Regions from separate parts of the Homo sapiens genome. Here regions 2 and 3 are each linked to region 1. The links come from fine-mapping of genetic effects on gene expression. A gene starts in region 1. Each other region holds a variant in brackets. All regions are shown on one strand. Distances are from middle to middle.

What was found.
Region 2: its variant is fine-mapped to the expression of PARG in whole blood (INTERVAL, PIP above 0.99).
Region 3: its variant is fine-mapped to the expression of PARG in monocytes (Schmiedel 2018, PIP 0.95).

The regions. Positions count from the first base shown.
Region 1 is chr10:49,940,507-49,943,267 of GRCh38, reverse strand. PARG (poly(ADP-ribose) glycohydrolase) reads left to right here and starts at 1,241. Exons shown (of 18, transcript NM_003631.5): 1 at 1,241-1,759. The coding sequence starts at 1,543. TIMM23B (translocase of inner mitochondrial membrane 23 homolog B) reads right to left here and starts at 1,215. Exons shown (of 7, transcript NM_001290117.2): 1 at 968-1,215. The coding sequence starts at 1,073. TIMM23B-AGAP6 (TIMM23B-AGAP6 readthrough (NMD candidate)) reads right to left here and starts at 1,215. Exons shown (of 17, transcript NR_158661.1): 1 at 968-1,215; 2 at 1-33. RefSeq lists an enhancer at 1,331-1,400.
Region 2 is chr10:49,907,294-49,910,054 of GRCh38, reverse strand. The region is part of intron 7 of PARG (poly(ADP-ribose) glycohydrolase); the gene reads left to right. It also overlaps the pseudogene RPL35AP24. Among named protein-coding and RNA genes, the nearest start is that of PARG, 33 kb to the left of the region's middle. The variant A/C (reference allele first, on the strand shown) is at 1,539.
Region 3 is chr10:50,020,065-50,022,825 of GRCh38, reverse strand. It overlaps the pseudogene FAM21EP. Among named protein-coding and RNA genes, the nearest start is that of AGAP6, 33 kb to the right of the region's middle. The variant C/G (reference allele first, on the strand shown) is at 1,302.

The DNA of each region.
Region 1 (2,761 bases):
CCCCAACATGGGTGACAGAACGAGGTCCTGACTCTAAAAACAAACAAAAAAAAAACGAAACAAAACACCATGTGTTGTAGATTCAGTTTTTTGACAAAGGTGACACCAGGGAAATGAAAGGTCTTTTATATTTTTTTGCACTAGAGTCAGTCTGAACATATTTCGTTGTTGTTGTTCCTTAGTATAAAATACCTAGAGAAATATTACAAGGATTCTCTAAAAAGAAAGTACTTTCGTAAAGGCTTTATCCACGACCAACTGCCTATCTTTAGGTCCAAGTTCTATTTATCTAGTTGAACAACCACAGTTACAAAGTACCAAAGTTCTGGAAAACATATTCACAAGACCGAGGAGAGGCAAAGGCAAGATATTTATGCCTCTGTATACCTTGATGTTGCCTATTTCCTTTCCTATAATTCTTACCTGGCTTCTTTCTTCATGTCTATATATCACCTTTAAAGTTCAGCTTACTTCCTAGCTCCTAAAGAAGGTTTCCTAGCCTGTCCCAAGTCATATTTATTTCTCACTTACATGCAATATTACTGAATATTCTGCCCTTACGGCTACTTGGAGGCTCAGAATATGTCACTGTGTACTAAAAAGTTAACTACGGGCTTGCTATTTGGAATACATTTACTCCCAAAGCTGGGCTCTACTCTTAAGGGTCAATCACACGGCCCACCACACACAAAACGTACGAGGCTTGGATATAAACCTAAGAAAACATGCATCATCTCGCGAGTCCAGGTCAATCACGGACAGCTTCCCCAGGAGATCCGTGGCCCTTTTTTAGGCCTTTCTATCTTGAAAGAGCAGCCATGCAGATACACTAACCCCACCACTGGTACTTAAGCTTGTAAACGCCAGCAAGGAAAAAAAAACCAACAACATAAAACATGGGACGCGCAACTTTAGTGTAAACGCAAGAACCAGTCAGAAATAATCGCAAGCTAGGCCCCATACTTACGCGGGACGCCAGCCAAATCCGCGTGCGAGTAACCTGCTTCGCCGGCTCCGAAAAAGCCGGCCAATACCCCTGTGGTTTTGTCGCCGCTTCCCCCGCCTCCTTCCATGGTATCGCAGCAAACCGAGTGGTTCCCGCCGCTGCCTCAAGCCTGGGTGGTCCGCTGGGCCGTTACTCCTCAATAACAGCGGGTAACCCCGCGTTGCCAGCGCCTACTTCACACGCTGACATTCCGGGCGCCGGTTCCCGTTAAGCGCCACACTTCCGCTTTGCGGCAGTGTGCGCCCCGGAAGCCGGAAGCGCCTGACGGCAGCTTTCCGGTGGTGGGAAAGTGAACGAATCCCGAATCAAAGCGGCGCATTGAGGCAGGTGGGGTGCCAGTGGAAGAGGGAAGGCAGGCGAGTGTTTACGGCCTGACTTGGGAGGCCGGCGGATCAGCAATTGCAGAAGCAGGCAGCGGCAGAGAGGGAATGGTGCAGGCAGGCGCTGAGAAGGAGGCGCAGTCCATCTCTCTCAGGGTTAGTGAATGAGGCTCTCCGCCCGGGCCGGCCCGGGGACAGTGCGCTGCTGGTCCCAGCATGAATGCGGGCCCCGGCTGTGAACCCTGCACCAAGCGACCCCGCTGGGGCGCCGCTACAACTTCGCCGGCTGCTTCGGACGCCCGGAGCTTTCCCAGCAGGCAGAGGCGCGTCCTCGACCCCAAGGACGCTCACGTGCAGTTCAGGGTCCCACCGTCCTCGCCAGCCTGCGTCCCAGGGCGGGCGGGACAGCACAGAGGCAGCGCCACCTCGCTTGGTACGTGGGAAAATAAAAATCTTTGTCCTTCGCCTCGGCCCGAACCTTCTGGTCTCAGTCTGAGGACCCAGGGGCTCCAGTCACTCCTTTCTGGTCTTGTGTGCATCGTCACTCTTGAGGTCCACTTGCTGAGCTACCAAAGCCACTAGTGGGTGAATGGGGCCGCATTTTTCCCAGTGCGATTGATGTGAGAAACTCTGATGAGCAGTCACTCACAGGGCGGAAAATGGCAGGAGACTCCACCACCTGTTTGCTTCTTCAGGTTTGATTGAGAAATTGCCTTAGTCGTCAAGGAGATCTAATTGTGTATGTAAAACAGTAGGGCGCTTCAGCCTCTAGATAGGAAGAAAACAACTTCACTTGTTCAGATTCTGGGTCCCAGGGTGCAGAGCTATTAGTTTAAGCTGGCATTGTACCCGTCCCTGGTATACAGTGTTGAACGAGAGAAACTTGGCCTCTGCCTTCATACCTTAAAATCTATCTGGAGAGATAGACGATAGCAAAAGTTAATATAATAAAAGGTAATGGATGTTCTGATAGATGAATGACAGATTGTTTTACCTAACTGAATTTATGGAATCGAAAATAGTCCTCCAGAAGATGAGATGCTTATTCTGAGGACTGTAGAATGAGTAGGAGTTAGATGAAGAGGAAGTAAGAAGTGTTTCAGGAGTGCAACCGAGGCCGGGCGCGGTGGTTTTGCCTGTAATCCCTGAGCTTTGGGAGGCTGGGGCGGGTGGATCACCTGAGGTCAGGAGCTCAAGACCAGCCTTACCAATATGGTGAAACCCCGTCTCTGCTAAAAATACAAAAAATTAGCCTAGCGTGGTGGCGGGCAACTGTAATCCCAGCTACTCGGGAGGCTGAGGCAGGTGAGGCAGGAGAATCGCTGGCATCCGGGAGGCGGAGGTTGCAGTGAGCCGAGAGGGCACCATTGCACTCCAGCCTGGGCAACAAGAGCGAAACTCCGCCTCAAACAAAACAAAACAAAACAAAACAAAA
Region 2 (2,761 bases), 33 kb after region 1:
TATTATATCTGTCTTTTTCTTCAGAACTGTTTCTGTCATTTAAATTTTTTTTTACTTTTTTTTTTTCCAAGAGCACAAATCCACTTTTATTTATTTACTTTTCATTAATTTAAATGCTTGAGGGGTACAGCGTCACACAGATTCTGTGTCCAGTGGCCTTAGCAGGAAGATTGCTTCAGAATTTGGCATGAACCATGCCACTATTTCCCTGGGACCAAGTTACCTTTCCCTAGATTACTCTGGTTTTGTTTGGTTTGCCACCAGGAGTCACTTTGTTGTTCTTTGTTTTGTATATATAAGTACATCTTATGCCCGAACAGAATTCTGTTTCATTTTGAGCATAAGCACCTTCTATTTTAAAAAGAGCTGTGTGCTGTCTTTGGTTCTGGAGACCCCACTTATGCTCAGCAAAAATGGCCTTGGACCACAGCCTTCCAGACATACTTCCTTTTAGTATTCCTGTTCCCAGCAGGCCTCCACAGGCTCCAAGTTGGCAGAAAGAGAAAGGCCATTTAAAATTTTAAAAACAGGTACAACATAATTCATTGTCTCCAAAATTGAGGCATGTATTATTATACCTGTGTTTAGCTAAAATAACAGTTTTTGAACTTGTGATTATGGAAAACTTTAAAAATGATAATGTATTGACAGAGCATCAGTAGAAACTCAGAAAAAAGAACATAAACTTGTATTAAAATAGATTACAAAAAGTTATTTCACATACACAAAGTAATGGCTGGAAGAAATTAAGTTTTGATTTATGCCTTTATTATATAATAAAAAGTTAAAATATATGTTGAAATTATTAGGCAAAAATCACAGCACAAATCAGCTATGATTCAATAACGTAAAACACAATAGTTGTATGTTTATGCATCACTTGAGCATCAATGCATTCATGCATATGTGGTATACTGTGGACATCCTGGCTTTCTGAGGTGTGGCATGCTATTATGAGTAGCTTATCTCATGGTAATTTTAACTGTATCAAATATACTCAGTATTTTTGTGTATTAAAAATTTTAGAACAAAAATATTGTTAGAGGATTTTTCTTCTCTCTTCATTCCTCCTATCCCCACCCCTTTATCCTATAAACTGTCTATAAACATTTCATGGAGGGTTAGTGCTTTTTAGAATAGTTTGGGAAAAGCTGACCTAAGGCGGTAAATTGTTATAACTGCTGTTTTAAATCACAACAGATTTCGTTATTCAGTAACTGAAGGAATGTGGCCTCCTTCCATGATAGCCTTTTGGTGGTCATTTTTTGTTTTGTTTTGGTTTGGTTTTTTGATAACACTGAAGTAAGTTTCTGAATGTATATAAACACATTATTACTTAGCTTGATTTAACATTCTTCGTAGATAATCTGTTTTCTGGGATTTTCTTCAAAGCTTAAAAAATATCAAGTATCTTTGTTATATTTGTCACAAAGAGCCTGTACCAAACTCCTAATCAAATGAAAGCAGCCTTAAATGTTTCATAAGACTACAGCTAATGTCTTTATCTCTCTAGCTTTCGAACCTCTGATTTGGAGTTC[A/C]GTGGAAATTTAACCTTTTTGGACCTCTTCCCTTGGTGACTCACAGTCTCTGGAATCATAAGGTCTGCATTACTTTACAGCTCAATTTAATTCATGAGAACTATAGGAGCCAAAAGGGAACTAATCAGAATCACTAAAATATTGAAACAGATCAATTGTGACTTTTATATTTGTATGGAATATGTGGAATTTCTCTCCCTGGTTTGGTTAATGAGTGCTTTTGAATTGGGACATATGTTGATGGTCTCATATTTATGATTTATGATTTCTAAATAGTGCATATCCCAAAGGACAGATTACTCCAATTGGAACTAGGCACTTTGCTTTTATAAACTTGATGAGTTACCATGGAATATCAGTCTTAGTTGAGCCCTCTATGCACTAGATCACTGATGAAGTTAGAGTTGTTATTTTGTGTTTGCAAAACACTATCTGGATTGTATTTATTTATGTGGTGGACAAAGAGGTTAGAAGTTATAGATACTGAAAAGTGAAAATTCATTCAGTAGACTTTCTCTTATATTCTAATAATGAAATTAAGCTAGTACTTAGTTTGTCCTATAACTCTAACCCTTCATTTGGGTCAAATAGCAGTAGAAGTTATTCCTTTTAAATGTTGCTGTGGTGTTGATTTCATTATCCAAAAATCTACTGTTAGAGGAGTGAAGATAATTCTGTGTTTTAATCTTGCCCATGATTTATATCTCTATCAGCTAGCTCTGAAGTGTTTTGGGTTTTGTTTTGTTTTGTTTGTATTTTATTAACACAGTTAAACATGATGCCTTGATTTATAATTTCTGTTAATTTGCATTTATTCTTCTTATGTTCCTACTCATAAAAATAAATTCTATAGTCCTTTTGAGTATGCTTTGAACACTTATCTACATGTAACATTTCATATTTAACCCTGGAAGGACTATTGTAGTATTTTTATCTGAAGGTAAAAATAATGAGTAAATAAAAACAGAACGTTAGATCTGTTTTTCAAATTTATATATTGTTTCAGTGTGTAGCCTATCTAAACAAGCGGTAAACTTGCTCATCAAAGACTAAATAGGTCCATTGGTCCTTTTATATGAGGGGGTGCTGTTAGTGCTGTGGTTTACCAAAGACTAAGCCAATGGTCTTTCTCCTTATTTTACTATTAGTACTAGTAGAGAAAAATACTCATCCTCGATTTATTGTGATGATAATGACAGGTAATGATTTACTACAAGAGTCTG
Region 3 (2,761 bases), 80 kb before region 1:
ATTTGTTTGGACTTTATTATCTTTGTGGGGTTATTTTGTTTTGGTTTGGTTTTTTGAGACAGCCTTGCCCTGTCACCCAGGCTGGAGTACAATGGCATGATCTCAGCTCACTGCAACCTCCGACTCCCAAGTTCAAGTGATTCTCCTGCCTCAGCCTCCAAAGTAGCTGGGATTACAGGTGCCCACCAAGAAGCCCGGCTAATTTTTGTACTTTTAGTAGAGACAGGGTTTCACCATGTTGGCCAGGCTGGTCTTGAACTCCTGACCTCAAGTGATCCACCCTCCTCAGCCTCCCAAAGTGCTGGGATTATAGGCGTGAGCCACCATGCCCGGCCTATCTTTGTGTTTTCTATTGATTATGCTGTTTCTCTTTTTGTCCCTGTTCTTGCTTTCTGTTGGGTTGATTGAAATTTCTTTGTTCCATCTTATTTCCTTTACTGGTTTGAAATTTATACATTTCATTGTTATTTTTCTAATACTTTTAATTTTTTATATCCATATATAATGTTGCCTAACAAAATCTAAAGGTAAACAGTACATATAGACTCTTCCCAAACAAGATGAGTGTTCACTTCCTCCCGCTGTTTTCCTTTTCCCCAACTCTCCTGTTGATATAATCCAGAATTCTAATTCTAAATTGTTATTTTAAGCATCCATGGCAATCAATACTTTAGTCTTAAATAATAGCATTGGCTGATTACTTAGAGAATTGTTACTTTTTTCACACTGCTTCTTCCTCTGGATTCATGTCATTTCTTGCAGGAGGACTTCTTAAGTAGTTCTTTTCAACAGAATCTGTTGCTGGCAAACTTTCTTAAATCTTGAATGTTCAAGGTGAGGGCTTAGAGCAGGCCCGCTGCCCCCGAGTCCAGGGTGAGGGCTCAGAGCAGGTCCACTGGCCTCACAGTCCAGGGTGAGGGCTCAGAGCAAGCCCACTGCCCCCGAGTTCAGGGTGAAGGCTCAGAGCAGGTCCACTGGCCCCAAAGTCCAGGGTGAGGGCATAGAGCAGGCCCACTGCCCCTGCAGCTCAGGGTGAGGGGCTCAGAGCAGGCCCACTGCTCCCCCAGTCCAGGGAGAGGGCTCAGAGCAGGCCCACTGCTCTCCCAACACTCAGCTTTTCTCCCAACAGGAATCATAGAAAACTCAGAGGCTAGTGAAAGGTTAAAGCAGGTGGTCCACACCAGCTGCAGAGTCAAAAAGAAAATACACGTCTGCTGCCATTTAGAGTGAGGACACAAACTCAGGCAAGACTGTTTTTCACACGATGATCCATGGGTGGGGCCTTGCTTGGCCCCCCCCCC[C/G]CCCACACACACACACAGCTGCTGACCTCTGAATACAAAACAATTTTTTTGTTTCAGGACCGGGCGCAGTGGCTCACGCCTGTCATGCCAGCACTTTGGGAGGCCAAGAGGAACGGATCACTTGAGGTCAGGAGTTTGAGACCAGCCTGGCCAACATGGCGAAACCCTGTCTCTGCTTAAAATACAAAAATTAGCCGGGCATGGTGGTGGGCGCCTGTAATCCCAGCCACTTGGGAGGCTGAGACACAAGAATCACTTGAACCCAGGAGGCAGAGGTTAGAGTGAGCCGAGATCGCACCAGTACACTCCAGCTTGGGGGACACAGAAAGACTCCGTCTCAAATAAAAATAAAAATAAAAATAAACATGCTTTAGGGGACTTGGATGAAATTGAAAATGTCCTTTTTGACTTTGAACAGATCAGATTTGGGTGATTTCTTAAGAAATCTTTGAAGCTTTAAAGTTGTGGTAAAAATAAAAATCCATCTTCCTTTTCCTGCATAGGTTATTCAGAATAGGCTGTTTTGATAAGAAAGGCTCCCCAGATTTCCAGAGGGAAGGGTCCAAGCTGCCAGTGTTCACCCAGCACCAGGACTCATGCCCTGCCCCCAGGAGACCTCCCCAGCTCTCCAACCCTCAACTCCGTGCTGACCTGGTGGGGCTGGAAGCCAGGGTTCCAGGGTTCCTGAGGGGCCAAGGCCTCCCCGCAGGTCCTCGCCTGCCTACTAACATCCACCTCCAATGGACCCAGTCTGCCCCAGATCCCCCCAGCCCAGGTAGAAAGGAGCCCCGGGTCCTCACTGGCTCCCTCGGTGGCCTTCTCGGTGCGGTGGGCCAGGCCCTCGGCAGCCAGCTTCCCCAGGCCTCCCAGCATCATGTGGCAGCAGATGGTGGCCAACTAGGATGCTGAGGACTGGCCCAATGTGCCTTTAGAGATGCCTCTGGTGCTCGTCTGGGCTCTGGGGCAACAAGCCCTCGCCCCAGCCCAGTAGGAGGCTGGACAGGTGAGTCAGTGAGGACGGTAGCAGGAAAGGGGCTGGGTGGAGCCACCCCGGCACTGGGGTGGCAGCATCGCCTGACAGCATGAGACTTCTGTAACCCTGTCCTAGGGACCCCGTGAAGGATAGGGGCAGGGAGCAGGGCTGAGGCTGGACAGGAGAGATCTGGACATGCCCCTTCCTTGAGGCAGAGGGCCTGAGTGCCAACCCCCCTGAGACCCAAGCTTCCCAAGCCTGGGCACTGATATGTACCCGGAGACAAGACCTAAGAATCTAAGTCTGCTGCTCAAGGTCCCCAGTGTGGCCCAGTCAGGGGTTTGGGGGTTCTACGGGCCTGGAGACCTGGGCAGTCCTTTGGGTCACAAACACAAGTGGAGTGAGGGTGGCTGCCCTCCCCATTCCTGGAGACCCGGGCAGTCCTTTGGGTCACAAACACAAGTGGAGTGAGGGTGGCTGCCCTCCC